Homo sapiens: one gene and its partners. The protein of the gene in region 3 purifies or fractionates together with the protein of the main gene of each other region. This does not show direct contact. Each region holds a gene or a part of one and is shown on either strand. Other genes may lie near its edges.

What was found.
Region 1: the proteins of NIPSNAP1 (region 3) and TNRC18 purify together in Homo sapiens (affinity purification with mass spectrometry; one large-scale study listed by BioGRID and IntAct). This does not show direct contact.
Region 2: the proteins of NIPSNAP1 (region 3) and TCF20 purify together in Homo sapiens (affinity purification with mass spectrometry; one large-scale study listed by BioGRID and IntAct). This does not show direct contact.
Region 4: the proteins of NIPSNAP1 (region 3) and SOD2 purify together in Homo sapiens (affinity purification with western blotting; one study listed by BioGRID). This does not show direct contact.
Region 5: the proteins of NIPSNAP1 (region 3) and NSMCE2 purify together in Homo sapiens (affinity purification with mass spectrometry; one large-scale study listed by BioGRID and IntAct). This does not show direct contact.
Region 6: the proteins of NIPSNAP1 (region 3) and HPSE purify together in Homo sapiens (affinity purification with mass spectrometry; one large-scale study listed by BioGRID and IntAct). This does not show direct contact.
Region 7: the proteins of NIPSNAP1 (region 3) and DNAJC21 purify together in Homo sapiens (affinity purification with mass spectrometry; one large-scale study listed by BioGRID and IntAct). This does not show direct contact.

Annotation. Positions count from the first base shown.
Region 1 is NC_000007.14:5,385,649-5,389,667, reverse strand, and holds part of TNRC18 (trinucleotide repeat-containing gene 18 protein), read left to right. Parts: intron 1-331; coding exon 332-1,996; intron 1,997-4,019.
Region 2 is NC_000022.11:42,267,794-42,272,527, reverse strand, and holds the start of TCF20 (transcription factor 20), read left to right. Parts: upstream 1-1,874; 5' UTR 1,875-2,189; exon of another isoform or gene 2,190-4,215; intron 4,216-4,734. UniProt on the Homo sapiens protein: Transcriptional activator that binds to the regulatory region of MMP3 and thereby controls stromelysin expression. It stimulates the activity of various transcriptional activators such as JUN, SP1, PAX6 and ETS1, suggesting a function as a coactivator.
Region 3 is NC_000022.11:29,560,427-29,564,445, reverse strand, and holds part of NIPSNAP1 (protein NipSnap homolog 1), read left to right. Parts: intron 1-2,583; coding exon 2,584-2,654; intron 2,655-2,799; coding exon 2,800-2,940; intron 2,941-3,243; coding exon 3,244-3,275; intron 3,276-3,617; coding exon 3,618-3,712; intron 3,713-4,019.
Region 4 is NC_000006.12:159,679,445-159,683,463, reverse strand, and holds part of SOD2 (superoxide dismutase [Mn], mitochondrial isoform A precursor), read left to right. Parts: intron 1-825; coding exon 826-971; 3' UTR 972-4,019. UniProt on the Homo sapiens protein: Destroys superoxide anion radicals which are normally produced within the cells and which are toxic to biological systems.
Region 5 is NC_000008.11:125,104,983-125,109,001, forward strand, and holds part of NSMCE2 (E3 SUMO-protein ligase NSE2), read left to right. Parts: intron 1-4,019. UniProt on the Homo sapiens protein: E3 SUMO-protein ligase component of the SMC5-SMC6 complex, a complex involved in DNA double-strand break repair by homologous recombination. Is not be required for the stability of the complex.
Region 6 is NC_000004.12:83,307,026-83,311,044, forward strand, and holds part of HPSE (heparanase isoform 1 preproprotein), read right to left. Parts: intron 3,866-4,019; coding exon 3,697-3,865; intron 3,054-3,696; coding exon 3,006-3,053; intron 2,471-3,005; coding exon 2,377-2,470; intron 1,927-2,376; coding exon 1,820-1,926; intron 1-1,819. UniProt on the Homo sapiens protein: Endoglycosidase that cleaves heparan sulfate proteoglycans (HSPGs) into heparan sulfate side chains and core proteoglycans. Participates in extracellular matrix (ECM) degradation and remodeling.
Region 7 is NC_000005.10:34,942,662-34,946,680, forward strand, and holds part of DNAJC21 (dnaJ homolog subfamily C member 21), read left to right. Parts: intron 1-2,205; coding exon 2,206-2,364; intron 2,365-3,060; coding exon of another isoform or gene 3,061-3,099; coding exon 3,100-3,142; intron 3,143-4,019. UniProt on the Homo sapiens protein: May act as a co-chaperone for HSP70. May play a role in ribosomal RNA (rRNA) biogenesis, possibly in the maturation of the 60S subunit. Binds the precursor 45S rRNA.

The DNA of each region.
Region 1 (4,019 bases), on a different chromosome or scaffold from region 3:
GCCTGACGAACATGGTGAAACCCCACCTGTATTAAAAATACAATAATTAGCCGTGCGTGGTGGGGTGCGCCTGTAATCCCAGCTACCGGAGAGGCTGAGGCAGGAGAATCGCTTGAACCCAGGAGGTGGAGGTTGCAGTGAGCCAAGGTTGCGCCACTGTACTCCAGCCTGGGTGAGGAGAGCGAGACTCTTTCTGAAAAAAAAAACCAAAACCAAAACACTGGGGGAGGCATGGGTTGGTCCATCCCCCTCTCAGGGGTCCGCCTCCGCCCAGGCAGGGGTGGGAGGGGAGGTGGCGCTCGCTCACTGCCTGCTGTTCCCTTCTCCGCAGACGGTTTCTACCTGCCCACCGCGGGGGCTCCGGGCTCCCTGCACTCTCACGCGCCCTCGGCCCGGACCCCTGGCGGCGGCCACTCCTCGGGCGCCCCGGCCAAAGGCTCGTCGTCGCGGGACGGTCCAGCCAAGGAGCGGGCGGGCCGCGGCGGGGAGCCGCCTCCGCTTTTCGGCAAGAAGGACCCGCGCGCCCGGGGCGAGGAGGCCTCGGGGCCACGGGGCGTGGTGGACCTGACCCAGGAGGCGCGCGCCGAGGGCCGCCAGGACCGGGGGCCCCCGCGCCTGGCTGAGCGCCTGTCGCCCTTCCTGGCTGAGTCCAAGACCAAGAATGCGGCGCTGCAGCCGTCGGTACTGACCATGTGCAACGGCGGCGCCGGGGACGTGGGGCTGCCCGCGCTGGTGGCCGAAGCGGGGCGCGGGGGTGCCAAGGAGGCTGCCCGGCAGGACGAGGGCGCGCGGCTGCTGCGGCGCACGGAGACCCTGCTCCCTGGGCCGCGCCCCTGCCCCTCACCGCTGCCCCCGCCGCCCGCGCCCCCCAAGGGGCCTCCTGCACCCCCCGCGGCCACCCCCGCCGGCGTCTACACCGTCTTCCGCGAGCAGGGCCGTGAGCACCGCGTGGTGGCGCCCACCTTCGTGCCTTCCGTGGAGGCCTTCGACGAGCGCCCGGGGCCCATCCAGATCGCATCCCAGGCGCGCGATGCCCGGGCCCGCGAGCGCGAGGCTGGCAGGCCAGGGGTCCTGCAGGCGCCCCCCGGCTCCCCGCGGCCTCTGGACCGGCCCGAGGGCCTGCGCGAGAAGAACTCGGTCATCCGCTCGCTCAAGCGGCCGCCCCCCGCGGATGCCCCCACGGTGCGGGCCACACGCGCCTCCCCGGACCCCCGCGCCTACGTGCCTGCCAAGGAGCTGCTCAAGCCCGAGGCGGACCCGAGGCCCTGCGAGCGTGCGCCCCGCGGCCCAGCCGGTCCTGCAGCCCAACAGGCCGCCAAGCTCTTCGGCCTGGAGCCCGGGCGCCCCCCGCCCACCGGCCCTGAGCATAAATGGAAACCCTTCGAGCTGGGCAACTTCGCCGCCACGCAGATGGCCGTGCTGGCCGCGCAGCACCACCACAGCCGCGCCGAAGAGGAGGCCGCCGTGGTCGCTGCCTCCTCCTCCAAGAAGGCCTACCTGGACCCTGGGGCTGTGCTGCCCCGCTCGGCGGCCACCTGCGGCCGGCCGGTCGCTGACATGCACTCTGCGGCCCACGGGTCTGGAGAGGCCTCGGCCATGCAGAGCCTTATAAAGTACAGTGGCAGCTTTGCCCGGGACGCCGTGGCCGTGCGCCCTGGTGGCTGTGGCAAGAAGAGCCCCTTTGGAGGTTTGGGCACCATGAAACCCGAGCCTGCGCCCACCTCTGCGGGTGCCTCCCGAGCCCAGGCCCGTCTCCCACACTCCGGAGGCCCTGCAGCGGGCGGCGGCCGGCAGCTGAAGCGGGACCCCGAGAGGCCCGAGAGCGCCAAAGCTTTCGGGCGCGAGGGCTCTGGTGCCCAGGGTGAGGCAGAAGTGCGACACCCGCCTGTGGGCATTGCAGTGGCTGTGGCCCGGCAGAAGGACAGTGGCGGCAGTGGCCGGCTGGGGCCTGGGCTGGTAGACCAGGAGCGCTCTCTGTCGCTGAGTAACGTCAAAGGTAGGTCCTGGGCAGAGCCCAGGTGCGGGTAGGATCTTGGGTCTCTCTGCCGTTTCCCGTACATTACAGTGTGGGCCCTTTCCCTTTGCTATTGCTAAGTCTTTATAAGTATCATTTTTTAAAATGGTCTTGAATGTTCTGTTGCGAGCATGTACCATGGTTCAGTTTTCCACTCCCTTGATGGGCATTTTCGTTTGTTCCTTCTCCGATGTTTTGTGTTCGGAACGTTGCTTTCAGTCTTTGTGTGCATCGCACCTTCGTGATACTTTCAGTCATTTCCTGAGAACAGATGGTCTTGGGAATAGACAAATATCAAACCTTCAATTTGAAGTCATCGAGGGACCTAACTGTGCCTTACCGATTCCAGTGTCCCCGGTACCTAGCCAGCCTGGGCTCTGGCACGTAGTAGGTGTTTGATGGATGAGTGAATGAGTGAGGAACAGACAGAAACTGGGGTTCCAACATCCTCACGGTCTTGATACTCAGTACTTGAGTGACTTTTTAGGTAGGTAGAGAGTTTACGTGCCTGTAAGTGGTTTATGAGTATCTGTTATATTTTGGATTCTTTAGAATTGTTTTATTTATTTATTTATTTTTGAAACGGAGTTTCACTCTTGTTGCCCAGGCTGGAGTCCAATGGCACGATCTCAGCTCACCGCAACCTCCGCCTCCCAAGTTCAAGTGATTCTCCTGGCTCAGCCTCCAGAGTAGCTGGGATTACAGACATGTGCCACCATGCTTGGCTAATTTTGTGTTTTTAGTAGAGACAGGGTTTCTCCAAGTTGGTCAGGCTGGTCTCGAACTCCTGACCTCAGGTGATCCGCCCATCTCAGCCTTCCAAAGTGCTGGGCATTACAGGCGTGAGTCACTGCCCCCAGCCTGTTTTATTTATTTTTAGTTTATAAATTATTATTTTGTTTTAGAGATAGAGTCTTGCTCTGTTACCCAGGGTGGAGTGCAGTGGTGTGATCATAGCTTACCGTAGCCTTGACCTCCTGGGCTCAAGCGATCCTCCAACCTTAGCCTCCCAAGTAGCTGGGACCGCAGGTATGCGCCACCACGCCCGACTAATTTTTTCTTTTTCTTTTTTTTTTTTTGGAGACAGAGTCTTGCATTGTTGCCCAGACTGGAGTACAGTGGTGCCATCTTGGCTCACTGCGACCTCTGCCTCCTGGGTTCAAGCGATTGTGCCTCAGTCTCCCCAGTAGCTGGCATTACAGGTATGCATCACCATGCCTGGCTAATTTTTGTATTTTTAGTAGAGATGGGGTTTTGCCATGTTGGCCAGGCTGGTCTCAAACTTCTGACCTCAGATGATCCGCCTGCCTTGGCCTCCGAAAGTACTGAATCTCCTACCTGTGTCACTTTTTTTTTGTTGTTTTTTGAGATGGAGTCTCGCTCTGTCACCCAGGCTGGAGTGCAGTGGCACAGTCTCTGCTCACTGCAACCTCTGCCTCCTGGGTTCAAGCGATTCTCCTGCCTCAGCCTCCCGAGTAGCTGGGACTACAGGTGCGTGCCATCACGCCTGGCTAACTTTTGTATCTTTTAGTAGAGACAGGGTTTCACCATATTGGCCAGGCTCGTCTCAAACTCCTGACCTCAAGTGATCCACCCGCCTCGGCCTCCCAAAGTGCTGGGATTACAGGCATGAGCCACCGCATCTGTTTTTTTTTTTTTTTTTTTTTTTTTGAGACAGACTTTTGCTCTGTTGCCCAGGCTGGAGTGCAATGGCATGATCTTGGCTCACTGCAACCTCCGCCTCCTGGGTTCAAGTGATTCTCATGCCTCAGTCTTCTGAGTAGCTGGGATTATAGGTGCACGCCACCATGCCCAGCTATTTTTTTGTATTTGTTTTTCTTTAGTAGAGACAAGGTTTCACTGTGTTGGCCAGGCTGGTCTCAAACTCCTGGCCGCAGTTGATCCACCTGCCTCAGCCTCCCAAAGCTCTGGGATTATAGGTGTGAGCCACCATGCTTGGCTTTTTTTTTTTGGATGGAGTCTCGCTCTGTCACCACGCTGGAGT
Region 2 (4,734 bases), about 13 Mb from region 3:
AGGCTCTGCGACAGATTGTCAGCATCCCCCGGGCCCTGCATCTGAGACGCAAGTGAGGTTATGAAGAAGGGAAAGAATGGAAGAATGATGGGGCAGGGGACTCTAAGGAAAAAGGATTCATCTTTCTTCATGAATTCTCTCAAGAAATTAAGGGTGCCCCCAACACCAGTCTTCAGGAGGCCCTGCATTCTCCTATTTTTGTCCAGAAAACATTGATTTGTGCTGAGTGCCTCTTCCAGCTTTCCCTTTACAGCCCTGATCCCAGGAGAAGCCAGGTACTGGTCTTTTAAAAGTCTTGAGGCCTGAGAATTTGAAAATGAAACTCAGAAGAACAATGGGAATAATCAGAGGGCAGGGCCCCGTGGCTTGTTCAGCTCTGCCCCGGAAGAGCCTGGCATGCAGGAGGTGTTGGGGAATCAAGTCCCCAGGAATAGTCCTGACCTGCTTTGGAGCCAGCCCCCACTTTGTGAGATTGGACAGAAGCCAGGAGAAATCACTGCCTTCCCCAAGTACATGCTCCTGCCAAGGGGCCCAGGACCACCTGGGGCTCTGCCTGGGACCCTGAGACCCTCCTTGGGTAGCCTGAGAAAAGGCAATGGCTAGGTGGGGTGAAAGGTCAAAAAGTAAAAGCAGGCCCCGGGAAGCTGTGTACCTCAAATATATGGAAATCTGGGTTCCAGACCACACCTGGTTCCTGACAATCCCCACCTGCTGCCGGAAGCACTTTTCCAATCCCAACTTTTAAGTTGGGTTGCTTCAGGAGAGGAAGCCACATACTCCCCTAACATCTAGGACAGATGGGAGCCTAATTTAGAATCGGCAATTTTAGCCAACATTAGGGACATCTAATCCAAACTCTCCTCACCCACAGGAAACTGAGGCCCAAAGTGGGAGGAGAATTTGGCCAGGTCAAAGGTCAGGGGCAGGATCACAAATTCTCAACGCATCCTACTCTTGCTGGCCTTGTCACTTTTGATGGCCGTGGGGGCACCAACATCTACATATTAGTTGCTCTACAATTGCGATTTTCTTTATAAAGAAGTCAAGCCCTTCCTTTGCTTTAGAAACATCAGGTTTGCAAAGGAAGGCTGGGAACAAGCTGAGGCCTTGGCACCGCAAATCCTCCGCCTTATCGGCAAATTAATTCGGGACCCTGGGCGCAGTCAGCCTGGCATTGCAGCTTCTTAATGCCGCAGCAGAAGGCAGCTGGAGCGTCCGTTTTACAGGTGAGGTAGGTGGGCCTCCCTCCTCGCGTTTTCCGCGGTGGAAACTGAGGCTCTGAGAGGACCCAAGTCGTTCCTCCACGGACACCTGGAACCCATGGGCGGGGGCTGCCAGGGACCCAGGCGGGACCAGCTAGGTCTTGGGCTGCCCCCGGCCCAGAGGGCTCTTGGCGGGCAGGAGCCGCCCCCACGCCCGACCCCACTAAACAGGTCACCGAGAGGAGACCGGGTCCTCGCCCGCGGACCTCCCGGGCCGCAAGAGGCGCGATTCTGGAGTTGGAGGCTCCAGGGAACTCCAGAAATCCCAGAGAGATTCCGGGCCACCAACTCCCCCAGAAAGTTGGCTCGCGTCCACCCCCAAGACGGCCCTGAGGCGCAGGCCAAGATGGCACTGGGCGGGTGGCGCGCGGCGCCCAGCGGCCGCAGAGGAGAACCCCGTGCGACCCTGCCGCGAGGTGGGGGTCTTCGCGATCCCTACCCGGCGCGCGCCAGCCTCGACGCCGCCGCACGCGGGTGGGCACGCGCGCGCCCGGCCCCGCCCCCAGCGCCCCGCCCCCGCCGCGCGCCCCGCCCCGCCGCGCGCCCTCCCGCCCGCCCGCGCGCCGCGGCCCGGAGCCTCCCCATTGGCCGCGCGCCGTCACCTGACGCTCTGTTATTTCCTGTGTGTTGGGAGAATGGAGAGAAAAAACCCCGAGCCCAGCCGCTTTCGGCCCCTGCGAGGCGGCCGCGGCCTCCGCCAGGGGAGCCCGCCCTGAGGCGCGCCTGACCGGGGAGCGAGCGCGCGGGCCGGAGCGAGCCTCGAGGGGCCGCGGCCCCGGCCCGCCCCGCCGCCGGCCCGGGCGCCCGAGCTGGAGGCGGCGGAGCCACCCCCACCCCCACCCCGCGCAGCGCCGCCCGCCGTCGCCACCGCTCCCTCCCCGCCCGCCCCCGGCGGAGGCCGAGGGACTGGGCGGGGGGCTCCTGCAGGTAACCGCCTCCCGGGCCTGAGGGGCAGGGAGAGGGTTGGGCCTGAAGGACTGGGGCCGGGCCGGGGTGTCCGGCCTCGGGGGCTGGGAGCAGAGGTCCCGGCCGGACCCAACCTGGGAGTGCGGAGCCTCCTGGACTCCGAGTCAGGGCTTGGGGTGCTGAGGGGAGTGTTGCTGCCCGGCCCGACCCAAGAGTGCGGGCAGGGGCCCGGGCCAGGCCTGGCATCAGAGGGCTAAGGTGTCTTGGGCCGGCCCGGGGTTCCGGCGGGGCTTGGGTGCCGGTGCTGGCCCGAGGGTGCGGAGGGAAGGTCTACCTGCTGGTCGCGCGAGGCCTTGGGTGCAAAGGCGGCGGGTGTGAGCGGGCGGCGTCCGGGAGTCAGCGCCGCCTGCTTCGGGGCCCCTGGCAGCCCCGGGGGCACCGGCCGCGCTCGCCTCTTGGCTACGGGCTGGAGGCGAGGCCAGCGGGGCTGGGCCGGGATGTGGGCGGGAGGGCGCCGCGCTGGGGCGCCCAGGAGAGCAGGGGCCCGTTTACTGCCATGTGAACACCTGAAGCCATGTGGACGCGGCTGCTTCTCGCCTGTTGGGGGCGGAGGGCAGGTACCGGCGGGTTGGGCGCAAGGTCCCGGCGCAGGACACACTTCCTGTGTGGGGCGGCCTCTCCTCCCGCGCCGCGGGGAACAGGGCGGGGTGTGCAAGCCGGGGTCTCTGGGCGAGGGAGCGCTCGTTTGGGGACCTGAGGCTTTCGTCCCTTTTTCGGGGGAAAGTGGTGGTTTGAAGGAGCGTGGCCAATCGGGCCGATCCCTCTCAGGCTACGGCGGGAGGTGCACTGTCCTCTGGACGCCGGAATGGGAGTGGAATTTAGTGAGTTGGGGGGCGGTGCCGAGGAGCGGCCGTCTTCCTCTGCTTGTGGGTGGGATTATTGTCTGTTTTTGTGGTTGCGGATACCAATACGGTCTGCTGGTCTGTATTCAATCCTTTAGTTTGACCTTAGGGGTCAGGTCAAAATTAGGATTTCCCCCTTTTCCTTTTTGCTTTTTTTTCCTCGAAGATTAGATGTCTCTGGTAACTGCTGTAAAATGGATGGAATTTTCGAGCTATTATCTAACAGGCTGATCTTTGAATGATAATTGGACCCTTATGTTAACAGCCTCAGTGAAGAGTGAAGAGTTTTATACAGCATCTTCCGTGGGGTGGCAGTTAGGTGGATGGGGAAGCTACACTGAATTCCGACCTGGGAGACCAGGAATCTGCTTACAGCTTTGACGCCAAATAAACTGCAGCCCAGGGCAAGTTACTTTCCCTGGTAATTTTCTCATCTGTTAAGTGAGGACTCCCGGGTCAGACGGTACAGGGGTTTGTGGTTTTGCTTTTTTATCTCTCATTTTGTGCTCTGTTTTAGCCATAGGCAACTTTTCTGAGAAATGCAGACTGTACCTTAGCTGGCTTTTAAAAGCCTGTCTTTAAGCTTCCAGCCTCTGCCTTCAACAGAGCATAAAAGTTGGTCAGGGTACGCTCTTTTTTGAAATCCCACTTGCTGTTCTGTGCTTCAGATCAGAAAGTGTATTATTCTGACCTAGGTGGAATGCACCTTAACATATTTTTTGTCTTTGTGAAAGAAGTTATCAGAAAATGTTTCAGAGAATATTTGTCTACTTGGAAAATGTGTGGATAACATGTGATTGGGTCTGTGTATGTTGGCTCAGAGGAGTTCCAAGATCTTTCTACGCAGGGGATTTTGGAGGATCCAGATTTTATTAAAGTTCTTCAAAGGACATTTGACATTTGGCTAACTGTTGAAATTTCCAGCCAGTTTCAGCATTCTCAGAGTAGGGGGATGAAGTAGAATGCCATAACATCTCCTGTGAAATGGTATGCTAGTGGAATTAACTGTCACCTCAGGGTGCACTGATTATCTGCATCCCCAACTTTCTCCTTACTGGTAGCCAGTGCTCCGCAGATGCTGAAGAACCGCAATTAGTTTCACTGATTTTATGGTGTGTGAAGGCCTTAGGCTGTGCTTTTGACTGGTAAGTATTTCTATACCAACCTCAGAATTTGTCTTAAATTTCTAGAACTGTGCTGCTGGGCCGGATATGAGCCCAATATGTTACAATATGTCTTTCTCAGATCACTTTTTATTTTTATATATTATTTAATTTTTAAAATTAAATCCCCTTTTATTTACTTATTTATTTTGACACAGTGTTGTTCTGTTGTCCAGGCTGGAGTGCAGTGGCACGATCTCAGCTCACTGCAGCCTCTACCTCCCAGTTTCAGGTGATTCTCCTGCGTCAGCCTCCCGAGTAGCTGGGATTAGAGGCATACACTACCACACCCGGCTAATTTTTGTATTTTAAGTAGAGACAACATTTCGCCATGTTAGCCAGGCTGGTCTTGAACTCCTGACCTCAGGTGATCCGCCTGCCTTGACTTCCCAAAGTGCTGGGATTACAGGTGTGAACCACTGCGCCTGGGCTAGATCACTTTTTGATTCAGTCTCTTTGAACAGTTTCCAAAAGGATCCCAGCATAGGGGCAGAGTGCTTA
Region 3 (4,019 bases):
AAATAAAGAAAATTCCTTCCTCTTGCCAATGATGCTGTCCTTGTAACTTTTCTCCGTTAATCCGTTTTCCACAGGTCATTCCTGGTTTTGGTAGATTTCTATCCATACAGTACTTTTGCCATTTCCTTTGGGAAAAAGACCTTTAAACCATAGGGTCAGGCCATTTTGCAGATGGGAAAATCAAGGCACAGATGGAGTCAAAAAACAGGTGAAGGTCAGGCTGGGGATGGGGATGGGAAGTTACAGAGTCTGAGTTTCTAGACTGCTGGCAGCCAGCTGCCCTTAGCTCTAGCTTGCCTGTGTGATCCCCTGGGGACCTTCCTCCGCTGATGGGCCCAGCCATGCTCCCAGGATGGCAAAACTGTTCCTTTCTTCTCCTCCACAATTAATTAGGTTTCTTTGTTACTAGGAATTAGATTAGTTTCCTGGGGTGGCCAGCATACCGCAAACTGGGTGGCTTAAAATAACAGAGGTTTATCCTGTCACAGTTCTGGAGGCTGGAAGTCACAAATCAAGGTGTTGACAGGGCTGTCCTTCCTCCTAAGGCCTTAGGGGAGAACCCTTCCTTGCCTCTTCCAGTTTCTGGGGATTGCTGGAAACTCTTAGTGTTCCTTGGCTTGTAGACTTGTCATTCTAATCTCTGCCTCCCTCGTCACATGCTGTTCTCTCTGTGTGTCTCTGTCTTCACATAGTGTTCTCCTGTGTCCAGATCTCCCACTTCTGATAAGGACACTAGTCACTGGACTCAGGGCTCACCTAGTATAATCTCATCTTAGGTCGATTATACCCACAGAGACCTATTTCCAAATAAGGTCACATTCTGAGGTTCTGGGTGGGCATAAATTTTGAGGGGACATTGTTCAACTCAGTGCAGATAATATGATTTTTATTTATTTTTATTTTTATTTATTTATTTTTTGAGACGGAGTCTTGCTCTTTTGCCCAGGCTGGAGTGCAGTGGTGCGATCTCAGCTCACCACAACCTTTGCATCCCAGGTTGAAGCGATTCTCTTGCCTCAGCCTCCTGAGTAGCTAGGATTACAGATGTGCATCACCACGCCCAGCTAATTTTTGTTTTAGTAGAGATGGGGTTTCGCCAAGTTGGTGAGGCTGGTCTCAAATTTCCGACTTCAGATGATCCACCTGCCTCAGCCTCCCAAAGTTGATTATTTATTTACTTGAGACGGAGTCTCACCCTGCCACCCAGGCTGGAGTACACTGGCACAATCTTGACTCACTGCAACCTCTACCTCCTGGGTTCAAGCGATTCTCCTGCCTCAGCCTCCCGAGTAACTGGGATTATAGGCATGTGCCACCACACCCAACTAATTTTTTTTTTTTTTTTTTAAGATGGAGTCTCGCTCTGTTGTCCAGGCTGGAGTGCAGTGGCATGATCTCGGCTCACTGCAAGCTCTGCCTCCTGGGTTCATGCCATTCTCCTGCTTCAGCCTCCCGAGTAGCTGGGACTATAGGTGCCCGCCACCACGCCTGGCTAATTTTTTGTATTTTTAGTAGAGACGGGGTTTCACTGTGTTAGCCAGGATGGTCTCGATCTCCTGACCTCGTGATCCACCTTCCTCAGCCTCCCAAAGTGCTGGGATTACAGGCGTGAGCCACCGTGCCCGGCCCAGGATTTTTATAAATTCTAACAGTACAAAGAGTTTTCCATGCAAAGTAAGCTTCCCTCCTGCCCGAGGCCCCACAGGCCTCCATTCTGTGTCCCAGGGGCATCTACTGTCAATCTCTTTTTTTTTGAGACGGAGTTTCGCTCTTGTTGCCCAGGTTGGAGTGCGATGGCACAATCTTGGCTCACCGCCACCTCTGCCTCCCAGGTTCAAGTGATTCTCCTGCCTCAGCCTCCCAAGTAGCTGGGATTACAGGCATGCGCCACCACACCTGGCTAATTTTGTATTTTTAGTAGAGATGGGGTTTTTCCATGTTGGTCAGGCTGGTCTCCACCCACCTCAGCCCCGCAAAATGCTGGGATTACAGGTGTGAGCCACTGCGCCTGGTCTACTGTCAATCTCTTAAGTCGCCATTAAGAGGTGATGCATAAATTAGCATCTCTGGATGTCCTTGCCACCTCAACACATGAGGTAGCATACCACACATCCTCTTCTGTTCCTTGGTTCCTTTTTTCAATTCACTGTCTTGGAATGTTCCATATCAGCCCATCAGTTCTCCCCTGTTCTTTTGTTCAGCTGCCCCTCTAAGGCCTGGTGGTCTTCCTTATGCATGCCACTGCTTCCAGGGTACAGGACACATCTGATCTTCTTGTTGCTATTTAAGGAAGGTGGGGTGGGAACATTATTCCCATTTTCAAGATGAGAACATTGAGGCCTAGAGCAGTCCAAGGCTGCTGGGCAGAGCTGGAGCTCAAATCCAGGTCTCCTAGACTTGTGTCTAGGGTCATCCCCTCCCCAGCATGGTCTTCCACCAAGGCAGAGGGAACTCAGGGAGTCTTGCTGCTACAGGGAACCAGGCCACCCCGCCTCCCCCGTCCCCACCACTTAGCCAACCTTGAGGAGGTCATCTGCTGGGGGTCCCAGCAGCTCACTGACCTATACCTCTCACCCCCAACAGTGCACCTGTGGCGATTCTCAGGTGGCTACCCAGCCCTCATGGACTGCATGAACAAGCTCAAAAACAATAAGGTATGTTAGTGTCCACTCAGCACACCTCTCTGGATGTGGGATGCAGCCCAGCCCTGTTCTGGGGACTACTCTGCTACCCCATGAGGCACACTGTCAGGATGGAGCGCACTTCCTGGTAGCCATGCCTTTACCACCATGCCCACAGGAGTACCTGGAGTTCCGAAGGGAGCGGAGCCAGATGCTGCTGTCCAGGAGAAACCAGCTGCTCCTCGAGTTCAGCTTCTGGAATGAGCCACAGCCCAGAATGGGTCCCAACATCTATGAGCTGAGGACATACAAGCTCAAGGTGCCTCCCTCCGACAGACCCCCTCCTGCCCCCCAATTTCCCTGCTGCAATGCTGCTTTGCAGCTGCCCCAACACCTAGACTGGGGCTTCTGGCTTCTCCCTCCCTATGGGCTCAGAGCAGAGTTGTATACACATGTGTGCAAACATGCACACCAGGTGTGTGTCAGGGCCTGCGAATGAGGCCAAATGGCCGCTGCAGCTTGGGAGGTGGGGAGACAGGGCAGTTTCCCTTCCTTGCCAAGCTGTGATGCTATGAATCTGAGGTGGGGGCTCATTCCCATCATCCCTTTGGTTCTCTTTCAGCCAGGAACCATGATCGAGTGGGGGAACAACTGGTAAGTGGCAGCACCAAGACTGGGGTTGGGGGAGGCGTACCCTGCTCACCTGCCCCACCAAGGCCCCTGGTGGGCCACCTTTTCCAGGGCCATATCACAGGGAACTCTTTACCTTCTGCCCCTCATGGATCTGGGAGAAGGATCCAGCCAGGAGGTGAGGATCTCCTAGAAGGTTGTGACCCCTCCGTTGGTAGAACACCCCGCCATCAGTCCTTTCTCTCAGCATCCCGGAGGACCGTGGGTTCCACCTAGGCCCCTCCTGTGAAGTGTGGCCAAGGAATCAGCCTCAGTACCCTCTGCACCAGCCCTGGCTTCTGCCCCATATTATTGTGCCTTCTCCAGGGCTCGGGCCATCAAGTACCGGCAGGAGAACCAGGAGGCAGTGGGCGGCTTCTTCTCACAGATAGGAGAGCTCTACGTGGTGCACCATCTCTGGGGTAGGTTGAGGACCTTCCAGGAGCCTTTTGTTAGTTCTCTTTCTCTGTCATCACTCTCTGTAGCCAATGGGGTTGTATTAGTGTCCTCATAGAACTTAATGTTCTAGCAGGAGACACTATCTTAGATGTAAAGTCACAAAAAGATCAATTTCAGATTACAAATAATATTTATAGAAAATAGGCAAGGAGTCTGGGAGCGGTGGCTCAAGTGTATAATCACGACACTTTGGGAGGCCGAGGTGGGCAAATCACAAGGTCAAGAGATCGAGACCATCCTGGCCAATATGGTGAAACCCCATCTCTACTA
Region 4 (4,019 bases), on a different chromosome or scaffold from region 3:
GCCCAGGCTGGAGTGCAGTGGCGCAATCTTGGCTCACTACAACTTCCGCCTCCCAGGTTCAAGCAATTCTCCTGCGTCAGCTTCCTGAGTAGCTGGGATTACAGGCGCCTGCCACCTCGCCAGGCTAATTTTTTGTATTTTTAGTAGAGGCGGGGTTTCACCATGTTGGCCAGGCTGGTCTCGAACGCCTGACCTCAAGAGATCTGCCTGCCTCGGCCTCCCAAAGTGCTGGGATTACAGGCCTGAGCCACTGCGCCCAGACCAAAAGTTTTTTTAAATGGATGTTTTACAGATAGAACTAAATTCTTCATTTACCTCACTTAATTTCTGAAAACACTGTGTCCTCCAACTGCTCTGTATTCCCAAAGATTAAAATTAGCCTTGGGGAGCAGAGCTGGTTCCTCGTAAACCCCTGTGAGTGCCCAGACCCTTTGGAGGAGGTTCTCAGTGGGCTTTTGCCTGCTCCCACAGATGTAACCCACCCTTCCTGCTGCTCCTAAGACCACCATGAGGAAGGCTGGGAATTGGCTCTTGAATTAATTTGTTGGTATTTTTAAGAATAGCTATTAAAGTACTGTTGTTAATTTTCCCAAGTCTATTTTATTGTTAGTATTTGTCACATTTTCTTTGTAAACAGTGAATTAAAAATATTTTATAGGAATATTCATTCTTATCTAGATTTCCTACTTATATAAAAAAACAAGTGAATGAGATTGTTACAAAGGGTAATTTTGTGTGAGTAGAATAATAAAAGTTGAAATTGAGAAGATGCAATGTTTTAGACTGAAACTGATGGTTGGTTTGTTTTCCCCTTCTTTCTAACAGGCCTTATTCCACTGCTGGGGATTGATGTGTGGGAGCACGCTTACTACCTTCAGTATAAAAATGTCAGGCCTGATTATCTAAAAGCTATTTGGAATGTAATCAACTGGGAGAATGTAACTGAAAGATACATGGCTTGCAAAAAGTAAACCACGATCGTTATGCTGAGTATGTTAAGCTCTTTATGACTGTTTTTGTAGTGGTATAGAGTACTGCAGAATACAGTAAGCTGCTCTATTGTAGCATTTCTTGATGTTGCTTAGTCACTTATTTCATAAACAACTTAATGTTCTGAATAATTTCTTACTAAACATTTTGTTATTGGGCAAGTGATTGAAAATAGTAAATGCTTTGTGTGATTGAATCTGATTGGACATTTTCTTCAGAGAGCTAAATTACAATTGTCATTTATAAAACCATCAAAAATATTCCATCCATATACTTTGGGGACTTGTAGGGATGCCTTTCTAGTCCTATTCTATTGCAGTTATAGAAAATCTAGTCTTTTGCCCCAGTTACTTAAAAATAAAATATTAACACTTTCCCAAGGGAAACACTCGGCTTTCTATAGAAAATTGCACTTTTTGTCGAGTAATCCTCTGCAGTGATACTTCTGGTAGATGTCACCCAGTGGTTTTTGTTAGGTCAAATGTTCCTGTATAGTTTTTGCAAATAGAGCTGTATACTGTTTAAATGTAGCAGGTGAACTGAACTGGGGTTTGCTCACCTGCACAGTAAAGGCAAACTTCAACAGCAAAACTGCAAAAAGGTGGTTTTTGCAGTAGGAGAAAGGAGGATGTTTATTTGCAGGGCGCCAAGCAAGGAGAATTGGGCAGCTCATGCTTGAGACCCAATCTCCATGATGACCTACAAGCTAGAGTATTTAAAGGCAGTGGTAAATTTCAGGAAAGCAGAAGTTAAAGGCAAAATTGTAAATCAGTCGAGATCGGGTGCCTTCAGGGTGGTATGGCTGTATACCAAAATTGTAAATCACTACATGAAGCTTATATATTGGTTTGGCCTGAAAGGTGAAGTGGGGTAGGCAGGGGGCGGGCTTACAGGTTATGGTGGATTCAAAGACTCCCTGATTTGTGATTGGTTAAGGAAGCAAAGCTTTGTCTAAAAACTTGGGGTCCGCAGAAAGGAACATTAAGGTCTGGCCAGGCCCCTCAGGAAGAAACTGAGAGCAAAGAATGGAGGTCAGAGTTTAGTCCCTGGTGTTCCCCCTTATCTGACGTCTGTGTGAATCCATTTGGTGGGGGTCTGGGTTTCTGAAAAGTAGCTCAGGGGCACGTGTTAAGGATGTCTCTAGGTGACTCTAACTTCCCTGGCTATTGTTTGAAACTGTTATGACCTTCTTGCTTATCAGCTTGCTGGTTTCCTTCTCGGGGCGAGCTGGGTGCCTGGAGTTTTCGGTGAAGGAAACTCAAGATTCTCCTTTATTTCTGTGCTTGTGGGAATCCCCCTGGCACACCCCAAAGAGGGGTCCCTGCTCCGTCTCACAGGGATCTTTTTGTATATTTGGCTTAGCATCATACATTTGCCATGTTGTTTCATCATCTGCCTAATTTACTGTTTTTGAATATTTCATTTGTTTCTAATTGTTACTACAGATAATGCTGGGGTGAGCAACTCTGTGTACATAGGTTTATCTCCTATTGGAATATTTTCTTTATATAGGCGTTTTTTTTTTTTCTTTTTTTTTGGAGACAGAGTCTTGCTCTGTTGCCCAGGCTGGAGTGCAGTGGCGCGACCGGAGCTCACTGCAACCTCCACTTCCCGGGTTCAAGTGATTGTCCCACCTCAGCCTCCTGAATAGCTGGGATTACAGGTGCATGCTACCATGCCTGGCTACTTTTTGTATTTTTAGCAGAGACAGGGTTTCACCATGTTGGCCAGGGTGGTCTCGAACTCCTGACCTCAAGTGATCCGTCTGGCTCAGCCTCCCAAAGTGCTGGGATTACAGGTGTGAGCCACTGCACCTGGCCTATATAGGCTTTTTTCTTAAACCTATTTAGTAATGTTTTCCCAAGTTTATTTTTTATTTTTAATTTTTTCCCCAAGTTTATTTTTCTATTTTTTTTTCATGGAAAAATGGGGTAACTTAGCAGTTTCAATATTGAAGACTGAAGTTTAAAAAAAATTTAAATTCAAGGTACTTTTAAAATTCAGTTAGAAAAGTAGGCTTTAAAAATTATTAGAGACAAGAGTACCAAAGCGGTGTGTGTATGTGTGTGTGTGTATGCATGCTTGTGGATTGGAAAAACTTTGGAGACTGATTACTTTTCATTATATATGTGTCACAGTGAAACAGCTTTTATGTGTCATGTAAGATTACTGCTTGCCTCTCTAAGGAAGGTCGTGACTGTTTAAATAGACGGGCAAGGTGGAACCTTTTGAAAGATGAGCTTTTGAATATAAGTTGTCTGCTAGATCATGGTTTGTATTGAACTAACAAGGTTTGCAGATCTGCTGACTTATATAAAGCTTTTTGATTCCTACTAAGCTTTAAGATTTAAAAAATGTTCAATGTTGAAATTTCTGTGGGGCTCTATTTTTGCTTTGGCTTTCTGGTGAGAGAGTGAGGAAGCATTCTTTCCTTCACTAAGTTTGTCTTTCTTGTCTTCTGGATAGATTGATTTTAAGAGACTAAGGGAATTTACAAACTAAAGATTTTAGTCATCTGGTGGAAAAGGAGACTTTAAGATTGTTTAGGGCTGGGCGGGGTGACTCACATCTGTAATCCCAGCACTTTGGGAGGCCAAGGCAGGCAGAACACTTGAAGGAGTTCAAGACCAGCGTGGCCAACGTGGTGAAACCCTGTCTCTACTAAAAATACAAAAATTGTTTAGCTCTGTTTTTCATAATAGAAATAGAAAAGGTAAAATTGCTTTTCTTCTGAAAAGAACAAGTATTGTTCATCCAAGAAGGGTTTTTGTGACTGAATCAGCAGTGCCTGCCCTAGTCATAGCTGTGCTTCAAAAACCTCAGCATGATTAGTGTTGGAGCAAAACAAGGAAGCAAAGCAAATACTGTTTTTGAAATTCTATCTGTTGCTTGAACTATTTTGTAATAATTAAACTTTGATGTTGAGAAATCACAACTTTATTGTACACTTCATTGCAACTTGAAATTCATGGTCTTAAAGTGAGATTTGAATTTCTATTGAGCGCCTTTAAAAAAGTAATACCAAACCA
Region 5 (4,019 bases), on a different chromosome or scaffold from region 3:
ACTGTACTCCAGCCTGGGGAAGAGAGTGAGACTCTGTCTCAAAAACTCCCTTGGATTCCTCCTCCCTTGCGCAGGGAGGAGGCCATTGCAAGACTTTTCCCAGTTTTCCCTTATTGCAGTAATTACAGTCCTGTCCCGCCTTTGTCCTACTGTCCCACAGCTATTGTTTCATATATTTTGTTTAGTTTTTCAGTCATTCATGGCAGGTGGACCAGCTCCATACAGTTATTCATTTACGGCTAACAGCAGGTGTCACTCATAATCTTTTTAGTGGGTGGCCTCCAAATGTTTTAACCCTACCCAGTCTGTTTTTGATTATGTTTTTGGTGATCATAATTTAGCTTTGATAGATAGGCCTGGATAAAAGTCATAATAAAATCTTAAACCATAAGAGAGAAGACTGGAACATAACCCCTTGGGAGATTGTATCAGTTTTTTTCAGGATTCTTTTTGAAGATTCCTGGGAGTTTTAGCTACAGAGTTTTTTTTTTCTCTTGGTTTTGTTTTGTTTTAAATAAGAGGTATATTTTGTTGTAAAATACAACATGTGCAATTTAAGAAGAATTATAAACATCATTTTTTGAAAGGTTCATGCTCTAAAGCCAAAGTTGGCAAAGTTTTTCTATAAAGGGCCAGATAACAAATATTTTCAACTCTGTAGGCCATGTGGTTTCTGTCACAACCCGCTGTTGTAGTGCAAAACCCACCATAGATGGTACGTAAATGAATGGGCATGGCTGTGGTCTTATAAAACTTTATTTACAAAAATGGGCAGTGGGCCGGATTTGGCTCACAGGTCTTAGTTTGTCAACCCCTGCTTTAGTGCCGCAGATTGTCATTAAGTAATTTTTAAAAGAAAGATGTATTTATTTTTTAATATTTGGATTAATTTTACAGCAAATACTTGATTTTGCATTTACCAAAAAAGTTAATTTAAGAAAAATTTTGAGCAAGTTATATGGGAAAAAAAGTGAACTAAACAACTTAGACAGACACAGAGTCACCAGGAGCCTGGACTTCTTATGAACTCAATATGTATATGAATACATGCGTGTGTGTGTGCATACACACACACACACACACACACACATTTTAACTAATACCAGGAGTCAAAATAACAAAGTAGTCAACATAAACTAACCAAGTGACTATTCTGCATATAATTCAGCTCTAGGTTTTAAAGAGGACATAAACAAGTATTAAGTAGTTCTTCCCTTCATAGAGTTTACCATCTTAGTGGGAAGACAAACACATATTAAAATACTAAAACAATGAGAAAACAGAAAAGATGTTATAAAGCTGCAAATAACTAATATCACCACTGATCTTATCAGAAAAGTCATACGCTCTCAAATTTATAATGGTGAACACAAATTTTTCAAAGTTCTAATTTTTTCTTTAAAACTTTCACTTTGGGCTGAGTGTGGTGGCTCATGTCTGTAATCCCAGCACTTTGGGAGGCTGAGGCAGGTGGATCACGAGGTCAGGAGTTTGAGACCAGCCTGACCAACTTGGTGAAACCCCATCTCTACTAAAAATACAAAAATTAGCCGGGCGTGGTGGTGCGCACCTGTAATCCGAGCTACTCAGGACTCAGGAGGCTGAGGCAGGAGAATAGCTTGAACCTGGGAGGCGGAGGTTGCAGTGAGCAGAGATCAGGCCACTGCACTCCAGCCTGGGCGACAGAGCAAGACTCCATCTCAAAAAAAAAAAACAAACAACTTTCATTTTGGCCGGGTGCTGTGGCTCACACTTGTAATCCTAGCACTTTAGGAAGCCGAGGCTGGAGGATCACCTGAGTTCAGGAGTTGGAGACCAGCCTGGCTAACATGACGAAAACCTGTCTCTACTAAAAATACAAAAATTACCTGAGCGTGGTGGTGGGCGCCTATAATCCCGGCTACTCGGGAGGCTGAGGCAGGAGAATCGCTTGAACCCTGGGGGCGGAGGTTGCAGTGAGCCGAGATCACGCCACTGCACTCCAGCCTAAGTGAAAGGGCAAAATTCTGTCTCAAAAAAAAAACAACAAAAAAAAACTTTCATTTTACCATTAGCAACAAATGCTGTTAGTTGTTGTCTTTGAAATTACAGTTGCACAGGCTCACTTTCTTCATTTTTGAGAAAATGTCTTTCAGATACCCAAACCTGAATAACCATAGTTTGTCTGTGAATTGTTCTATATTGTACTGTTTTATCAAGGACATTCTTTTTTTTTTTTTTTTTTGAGATGGAGTCTTGCTCTGTCCCAGGCTATAGTGCAGTGGCACGATCTTGGCTCACTGCAACCTCCGCCTCTTGGGTTCAAGCTATTCTCCTGCCTCAGCCTCCTGAGTCCTGAGTAGCTCGGATTACAGGTGCACACCACCATGCCCGGCTAATTTTTGTATCTTTAGTGGAGACGGGGTTTCACCATGTTGTCCAGGGTGGTCTTGAACTCCTGACCTCGTGATCCACCCTCCTCGACCTCCCAAAGTGCTGGGATTACAGGCATGAGCCACCAGGCCTGGCCTATCAAGGACATTCTTAAATGAAACTAGCATTTGTTTTACTATGAGTGCTTGGTAGAGAGGAATACAATGATCTATTAGAGTGCAACAGTTTGGTGCCACTGCTCTGATTTTTGCTAAGGCACCAGCAGTTTTTTCCACAATTGCTTTTGCACCATTAGTACAAACATTCAACATTTGTACTAATGGTGCAAATGTTAAAAAAGAAAAAGAAAAACAAACAAACCCAGACAAATAGCATCTTAAAATTATGATGTAAATAAGCTAGGCCTGGTGGCTGACACCCATAATCCCAGCACTTTGGGAGGCCAACCTGGGCAGATTGCTTGAGCTCAGGAGTTTGATACTAGCCTGCAGCAACATGGCAAACCCTGTCTCTACAAAACATACAAAAATTAGCCAGGCATGGTGGTGCACACCTGTAGTCCCAGCTACTCAGAAGGCTGAGATGGGAGGACAGCTTAAGCTCAGGTGGCAGAGGTTGCAATGAGCTGAGATCACACGACTGTACTCCAGCCTGGGCAACAGGGCCAGAGCCTGTCTCAAAAAAAAAATAAAAAAAATTATGATGAAAATAGTTTCGACCCATGGATCCCCTGAAAGGGCCCAGAAGAAATTACGATGAAAATAGTTTTGACCCACGGACCCCCTGAAATGGCTCAGAAGACCACACTGAGAACAAACTGAGTTTGATTGCTTATGAATAGGAGGTAGATGACATGAGAAGTCCTCTGCAGAGAGAAAGCCAAGGGCAATCACTCCCACTGGGGTAATTCAGCAAGAACTTGTTAGGGGAGCAGTGTTAATGTGATACCAGACTGAGGTGCTGTCCAAGGACCCAGAGAGTAGGAAAACACCGGTTGTTTAAGGAAATTGGAGGGTAGATCAGCCTGTAACAGTAGATGAAAGACTTGTAGAAGGCTGATACTAAGGCAGCCAGTATCAGCACTTAAGTGCACGCTTGCTATTGGGTCCAGTCCTAACTCTGTCATAAGTTCTGTAACTTTGAGTAAGGTACCTAACTTCTTTCAGCTTCTAATTTCTTATCTGTGAAATAGGATTAAAATGCCTGCTTCATAAGATTGTTGGGACTAATGAGATAATATATGCTAAGTGCTCTCAGCCACAATGTTAATTCAATAGCTATCATATATGACAACCAGCAATTAGTAAAATTTGAGGGTCAGAACTTAGAAGAAGGGCCTGTGATGTGAAGAGGGTAAGAAAGATGGATGAGTTTGGAAGTCTGTGTAAGACTGAGTCCAGCTAAGTCACTAATTCATCAGATATGTTGCCAAAACTACAAAGATAAATAAAGGTTTCTTCCTTTGAGTTGTTTACAGTCTAGGTAGGAAATAAGACATATACTTGTTATTCAATCATTAAGTGAACATTGATGGCCTATAATGTGATGCTTTGCCAAGGAGTTTGAACCTTATCATTGGAAGGTTTAAAGTAGAGGAAAAAATATGGTAAGATCCAGTTTTAGAAAGATAACTGTCCACAGCAGTA
Region 6 (4,019 bases), on a different chromosome or scaffold from region 3:
AACCTCACTTCCACTCCCTGTGATTCCATCTCCAACCTGACCAACCAGCACTCTCCACTTCCTAAGCCCCTACCGGCCAAATTATCCTTAAAAGCTCTGATCCTCGAATGTTCGGGGAGACTGATTTGAGTAATAATAAAACTCTGGTCTCCTGCACAGCTGGCTCTGCATAAATTACTCTTTCTCCTTTGCAATTCCCCTGTCTTGATAATTGGCTCTATCTAGACAGCAGGCAAGGTGAACCTGTTGGGTGGTTACAGGACCACAAGTGCATGCCACCATGCCTGGTTCTGGTTTATTGATCTTTGAGGGAGGAATTAACAGGAAGCCAGAAAAGTGTCATCAATTATAAATAAGTCATTTAAATGAAATGGCAACTGCATGCAGCAGCAGCAGCAGCAGCAGAATCCCTCCCTTTACATCTTTCCATATGATAACAAATCCTAGAAGACTATTACCATGCTAGAGGTATCCCTTTCAGGGTGAGACAAATTCCCACCTCTATAGACAATTCCTGGTCCTATGAGGTCCCTGCACAAACAATGTGTGAGGGCTGAAGAAAAAGTGGCAGTCAGCGGGGGTAAAATGTAAAATAAGCAGAATTGCACCTAAGCTATTATGGACACCTCTTCCCACTTCTCCTTCTCTATCCCCCTTCTCCCCGACACCCCAGATCTTTAGTTAATGGCAAAACAAACATCTCCATTCTTTATTCCTCTTGCTTCCATGGGCATAAAGGATTTGTGATGTATTCTAGGCTTATAAGAATGAGGATGAGAGAAAAAAGAATGAAGATGGAAGAGAAAAGAAAAAAAATCTCAATGTGAGGATATAGCAGTATAGATTAAAAGCACTAATAGAGTTACTAAATGTAACTAAACCAGTATTTTAAAGCAATCAAGTTTGTGGTGTTGGACAATGAGATGATTTAACAAATCTTTAAATTTAATGATAGCCCCTCTGGTGGGACCTCATACTTTAGGCTCTAAACTTCTTGGGAATCTATGAATTATAGCTACATACACTAAGTATCCTCCTGAGAGACAAAGCTGTAATATGCTCTAACTTGCATTTTTTTTTTTTTTTAAGAGACAGGGTGTGGCCGGGCGTGGTGGCTCATGTCCGTAATCCCAGCATTTTGGAAGGCTGAGGTAGGCAGATCACTTGAGCTCACGGGTTTCAGACCAGCCTGGGCAACATGTCAAAACCCCGTCTCTACTAAAAATACAAAAATTAGCCCAGTGCGGTGATACTCCTGTAGTCCCAGCTACTCAGGACGCTGAGGCAGGAGAATCGCTTCAATCCGGGAGGCAGAGGTTGCAGTGAGGTGAGATCGTGCCACTGCCCTCCAGTCTGGGTGACAGAGGGGAAAAAAAAAGACAGTCTCACTCTGTTGCCCAGTCTAGAGTGCAGTGGCACCATCATAACTCACTGCAGCCTCAAACTCCTGGGCTCAAGCAATCCTCCCACCTTGGCCTCCCAAAGTATTGGGATTACAGGGAACTACCATATCCGGCTATATGCATTCTTTTACAGTGTACTTCTTTAGAGTAAGGACTACTTGACATATTTATGGGCCATAATTAAAGGCCAAAATTTCTGAAACAATTCATCCTTATAGTGATTAATTTGGAACACTTGTTAAAGATGTCCCTCAAGCTTTAGTAAATCATTTTCTTGCAAAATCTGGCATGAATTTTGGGGCTCAGCCACTGAAATGGTCTTTGATCTGCTTTTTGGCTGGGGAGCTATTTCAGCAGAATAGAAGGATGGAGAAGAGCTGCACTCTGACCCCTAAGGCCAGCGCTGCTTCACTCACATAAAGCCAGCTGCAAAGGTGTCGGATAGCAAGGGCGCTCCGCCTCCATATGCAGAGCTTGTTTCTCCTAACCAGACCTTCTTGCCAGGCCTGGTGCTCTCAACCACCTATAGAACAGAAAAGTATCCATGGTAATTGCAAAAAAGCTGACCTGTGGTTTCAACTGTGGTGTTGAAGATTAACAGCATTCAAAACTTTGTATTCCTAGACCCACCCCTCCTATATAGTTATAAAATATGTTCATAGTCATTTAGGTCTTGGGAAACTTTCTTTTATTGAAATAGTAGGCTGTGGAAGGAACATGAAGTGAACCAACCCATTCTTATCATCTATGTGAGTTAATTCTACTAAAGGCTATTGGAAATATTTCAAATTTCTAATCACGTACATGGGGTAAGACCCAATGCTAAGGGGAAAACTAACAGTGGATAAGTCATAGTGCTTGTTCTCTAAAATTAGAAAAACATGTAAATATACATACCTATAGAATTTAGAACTAGCTAGACTATAAAATAAGGATTCTGGTTTTACATTAAAAAGTTTAAAAAGACTATTACCTGGAAAACTTTTTGCACAGATGAAATAAAAATGTCCAATACATCAGGGTTTAGAAAATCTTCCTTGGTAGCAGTCCGTCCATTCAAATAGTAGCTAAATTACACAGAAAATATTCAGAAAAAAAATAACAAATTTTACTTTCTGCTTTTAGGTTAATTGCTGACCTTATTCTCCTTCTTACCTCTCCCACTCACCTGTTACTAAAAAAAGGTAGAAGTTCTACTAGGGAAAGACCAAGATGGAAGGGAGTTATGAGGAGGAGTCCATTCTATGCAAGTAACTAGAAATCAGTTACTCTGTCTTGAAAAAACACAGTGGCAAGTACATGTACTCCTGGGTTACTGGTTCTTTGGCAAGCAATTGGTTTTAGCTACTTATATGTTCCATGGGTTAATTGGCACTGTTCTTCTGTATAAAGTGATCTTTATAGAAACCACTACATTATTTAAAATAACTTTAAATTTTTTTTATTAATATTAAAATTGGAGTACAGTGCTACTTGAGACACTATTTGTTTCTTATTTGAACTGCAGTCAATTGGCAGTTAAATGAACTAACTTTTTGAATACTAGGTAATAAATAAAGCTAGCCTTACTTTCCTAGTATTAAGAATAGGAGACATACTTACTGATGCCATGTAACTGAATCAATCACTTCTCCACCAGCCTTCAGGAAGCTAGAAAAAAAATTTTATTATCACTCAGTCATATAATACATATATATGCACAATATACGCATGAGAGTTTTATTCCCTAGAAATGGGCTGGTTACTGCTTTAGGATCAGGTAAACACAAACTTCCTAATTTTGATAGCAAATTTTATCATAGGTGACATTTGCCTCAGATCCCTTGATATTCTGAACCCGTCAAAATTTCCTTTTTTTGGTAAATCATGTATTCAGGCAGCAGATTGTTTAATAACATGTGGACTATTGAGGATTGTCTACCAGAGAGAATCTTTTTTTTTTTTAAGAAAAGTGGTGGCTGGGTGTGGTGGCTCATGCCTGTAATCCTGGCACTCTGGGAGGCTGAGGTGGAAGGATGGCTTGAGCACAGGAATTCAAGAGACCAGCCTGGGCAACACAGGGAGACCCCATCTCTACAAAAAAATTTTTTTAAAGTAGCCAGGTGTGGTGATGTGCACCTGTAGTCCCAGCTATTTGTGGGACTGAGATGGGAGGATTGCTTGAGCCTGGGAGGTCGAAGTTGCAGTGAGCCATGATTGTACCACTGCACTCCAGTCTGGCTGACAGAGTGAGACTCTGTCTCAAAAGGAAAAAGAAGAAAAGTAAAGTGATTCTGCATCCTCTAGTTCCTACCTCTTCAGCATCTTAGCCGTCTTTCTTCGAGGCTGACCAACATCAGGACCATAGAGTTTTGCATTTTTGAAGGTGGACTTTCTTAGAAGTTTATGCAATTGAATAAAATCTTCTCCTAACTGCGACCCATTGATGAAAATATCAGCCTTCTTAAGGAAACTGTTAGGTTCTGAAAGACAGCAATTCTCAAAATATATATCGAGAAATGTTGTATTTAAAAGCAAACATATAGCAGTATTTAAAAGCAACAAAACATTTTCCAAATTACAAAAACTTGTAATTCAAAGTCAAGAAAAGTAAAACCAGGTCTGGCGCTATGGCTC
Region 7 (4,019 bases), on a different chromosome or scaffold from region 3:
TCCTCTTTCTCTCTACACGCTCAACACACACACAGTATTTTTCTGAATAATTTGAAAGTAACTTACATATATAGTGTTCCTTTACCTCTAAATACTTCACTATATCTTAAGAATAAGGTTATTCTCGCTGGGCGCAGTGGCTCACGCCTGTAATCCCAGCACTTTGGGAGGTTGAGGTGGACAGATCACCTGAGGTTGGGAGTTTGAGACCAGCCTGACCAACATGGAGAAACCCCGTCTCTACTAAAACTACAAAATTAGCTGGGCGTGGTGACGCATACCTGTAATCCCAGCTACTCAGGAGGCTGAGGCAGGAGAATCGCTTGAACTCAGGAGGCGGAGGTTGTGGTGAGCCAAGATCGTGCCATTGCACTCCAGCCTGGGCAATAAGAGCAAAACTCCGTCTCAAAATAAAAAAAAAAAGTAAGGTTATTCTCTTATGTAACCATGCTACAGTGACCAAATAAAAGAAATTATTAACATTGATATGGTATTTTTATCTAATTTACTACCTGCATTCCAATTTTGCCAATCAATTATTTATTAATATAGAATTTTTCTCCAATACAGAATGCAGTCTAAGAACATAATCTGGAACAGCTTGTGTTGTCTTTTATGCTGTTTACATTTTAGAAGTACACTGTTTTCACTTTTTTCATAGAATTCTTCTCATTTTGTCTTTGTGCATTTCCTCATGATTAGATTCAGGTTATGCAGCCCCAGGAGGGACGCCGCACAAGCATGTTGTGCTCTCAGGGATTCATAGCTGGAGACACGTAAAGTCCTTCTACCCCTCATTTGTCGTGATAATTTTCATCACCCAATCAAGGTGTCATCTAATTTTACTACTATACTACTAATTTTACTATAGAGTTAGTATTTTTTCCCTTGCAACAGGTTTTCCCTTGTAACATGTTTAATCTGTGAGGAGACACTTTAAAACTATGCAGATATCTTGCTTCTCATAAAAGTTTTCCTCATAGCTTTAGCATCTGTTGATGGTTTTAGCTTGCGTCAGTCTTTTTTATGATGGTTGCAGAATGATGCTTTTCCAGTGCCAGTACCCCCTCAAGTTTTTATCAGTTAGCACTTGGCCTTCTGCTGTAAACAGGAGCCTTCCCTTTTATCCATTTATCTATTATCAGTTTGAATTTATTTCTTTTTTTCAGTGTTTTATAATTCATTACTGACCTTTTCATGCTCAAATTTTTCCAGAATTGGTTAGTGAGCATTCCTTCAAACCACCCTTGTGTCCTTTTGACATGTGCTTATAACTTTTTTGGAGGACTTACTTTCAGACACAGGATCTTCCATTATCTCCAGGGCAGCTTGGTCTCAAGGAGAATTTTAGTAGGAAAGAAAAACAGCAACTAAAACTATAATACCAAAAGCCTGAACAGATGAGATGAAGTAGATAGTTGACAAAGTTTCCTGCTTTTTAGTTGATATAACTCTTGTAGCTTATGTTGTCAACCCTGTTTTGTTGAATGCTTTTTAGTTGCCTGTAGGTGTGCTGAGACAGACATTGCCAGCAGGGTTTTGAACACAGGGATAGAGATGTGTCTGAATGTACGTTACGGTGGTGAGAGTGAGAAAGGAGACCTCTCCTGAGAAGGTGAAAAGCAGCTGTTGAAAAAGCAAGAGGCAGTAAACTGCTCTTGTATTTCAAGCCTTCCCACCACCATTTCTCTAGTCCAGGGGGCTCTTCCTTTTAACATTAAAATGTGTGTCTTCTAATTTCCCAGTGATCCCTCCAAGTCTGTGGGATGGCCTGGAATGTAAAAACACTTAGCAAATACTTAGTGATTAAAAGAAAACAATGGCGGAAGCTTTAAGAATTGAAAAATCAAAATAATAAGTAGAGAATTTGTCCAAACCTCCCCCTGCCGACATTCCCCCATCCCCAGAAAGGAAGAAAATGTATGTAGATAAAAGGACAGAGAAAGACAGGGAAAGCTGTGGTACGGAAAGAAAGAGTGTGGCCACGAGCTTCCAGTATGCTCACTGCCAAGGAATCCTGACACGTTCTGTTTCTCTGTATAAAATCATGAACAAATAAAAAAAAAGAAAAAAATAAATAGAATCAGAAACGTTTTGCTTAGTGGGAAAAAAGCTAATTTTATCTTGGTTGCAGTTATCCAGCAACATTATCTGGACACGTGAACTAATTTTAGCGCAGCTGCTCACGTCAGATTGCTCTTTCAGCATGAAGAATCACGAGAAGTCAAAGAAGCATCGGGAAATGGTGGCCTTGCTAAAACAACAGCTGGAGGAGGAAGAAGAAAATTTTTCAAGACCTCAAATTGATGAAAATCCATTAGATGACAATTCTGAGGAAGAAATGGAAGATGCACCAAAACAAAAGTACTTCTAAATATTAAATGTCACTAGAAATACTTATCACATTCAGAGATTGCATTAAAAGGTTTTTTTTGAGATGGAGAATCACTCTGTTGCCCAGGCTGGGGTGCAGTGGCGCAGTCTCAGCTCACTGCAACCTCCAACTTGTGGGTTCAAGTGATTCTCCTCCCTCAGCCTCCCAAGTAGCTGGGACTACAGGCACACACCACCACGCCCAGCTAATTTTTGTGTTTTTAGTTGAGACAGAGTTTCACCATGTTGGCTAGGCTGGTCTTGAACTCCTGATCTCAGGTAATTCACCTGCCTCAGCCTCCCAGAGTGCTGGGGTTACAGGTGTGAGCCACTGCGCCCGGCCTTAAAGGCTGTTTTATCCCAAGGAAGTTATTCTAACTAGAAAAGATTGTCTCCATATTTTCTAGTTAATGGAACTTTATAGTGTTGAAGTGGATACAGACGTCAACTATAATATTTATAGAACATATTATCACTATATTAAAAGCAGTTTTTATACCTGGCAGTTGATAAGCTAATTACTATCCATTGAACTACAGCCTTGTGTTATTCTCTAAAATGACAATGTGAATACTTTATTTTCCTTTTAATGCTTTAAGATATTAAATATTTTTAATCTTTTACTTCTGTTTTACTACTTTATCACTAGTGTTTCAACTTTTTTTTTTTTCCACTTACTCTTCACAGAGTCAAGTATTTGACATTTCGATTTATATTTGCTCTTAGGCTTTCTAAAAAACAGAAGAAAAAGAAACAGAAACCAGCACAGGTATGTTAGAAAGGTTTTGTTAACATTAAATGCCAACGATAAAGTTGCAGTGCTCTTATTTATTCAGTGTAGTCTGTGTTAAGGAGAGAAACTTATACTCCATAATTTTATGTTGATTGTAAGATTGATTAAAAAGGAATTAGAAATATTTTCCTTTTTTAGTGCTTCCCCCCCCTTGTATGTATGTAATAACAAACTTAATTATGACTGCCAGTGTGTTTAACAAGTATGCATGTAGAATTCCCCTGGTATGAATTAGCTGAATTTTCAGTATTTTAAAAATCTGAATACATCTCACAAAAGGCTTTTAAGTCAAGACAACAATTAAAATCTTGAAATAGGAAAATCTGGGATTGGTCATTTTTTTATCTCAGTTTATTCTGCCAACAACATAAACATTGCAAAAGGAACATTTGGTTAGAAACTTGTAATGATTGTGAGTCTTGAAAAAATGTTTCTATTTTTCTGAAGTTTAAGTAATTTAAATATTTCACAGCTGAAGTCCAAATTCATTCTCTGTCTTAAGGACTATTTTTAAATAAAATGGTATTATGTTGTTATACCTATAAAAATAAAGTGAATTTGTCCATTTTACCAAGGACATTTGGATTTATGGCATTTTAGTATAATCTAGTTATATTAACTTACATTAAGTATTAAATATTTTTAAGAAAACACATTAATGCTTTTTAATAAAACTTCAGATTTGGTTTATTTATCCAAATGGTTATAATAATATATTTAATAGTCTTTTTTAAAATCAGTTTCCTATTCAAAAAATGATATATGACACATGAGTTAATCACTTAAAATTGTAATTTGGAACTTTTTGCTTCAGTTATAAAACCGCATAGCAAATATGTGTTCTTTTTATAAA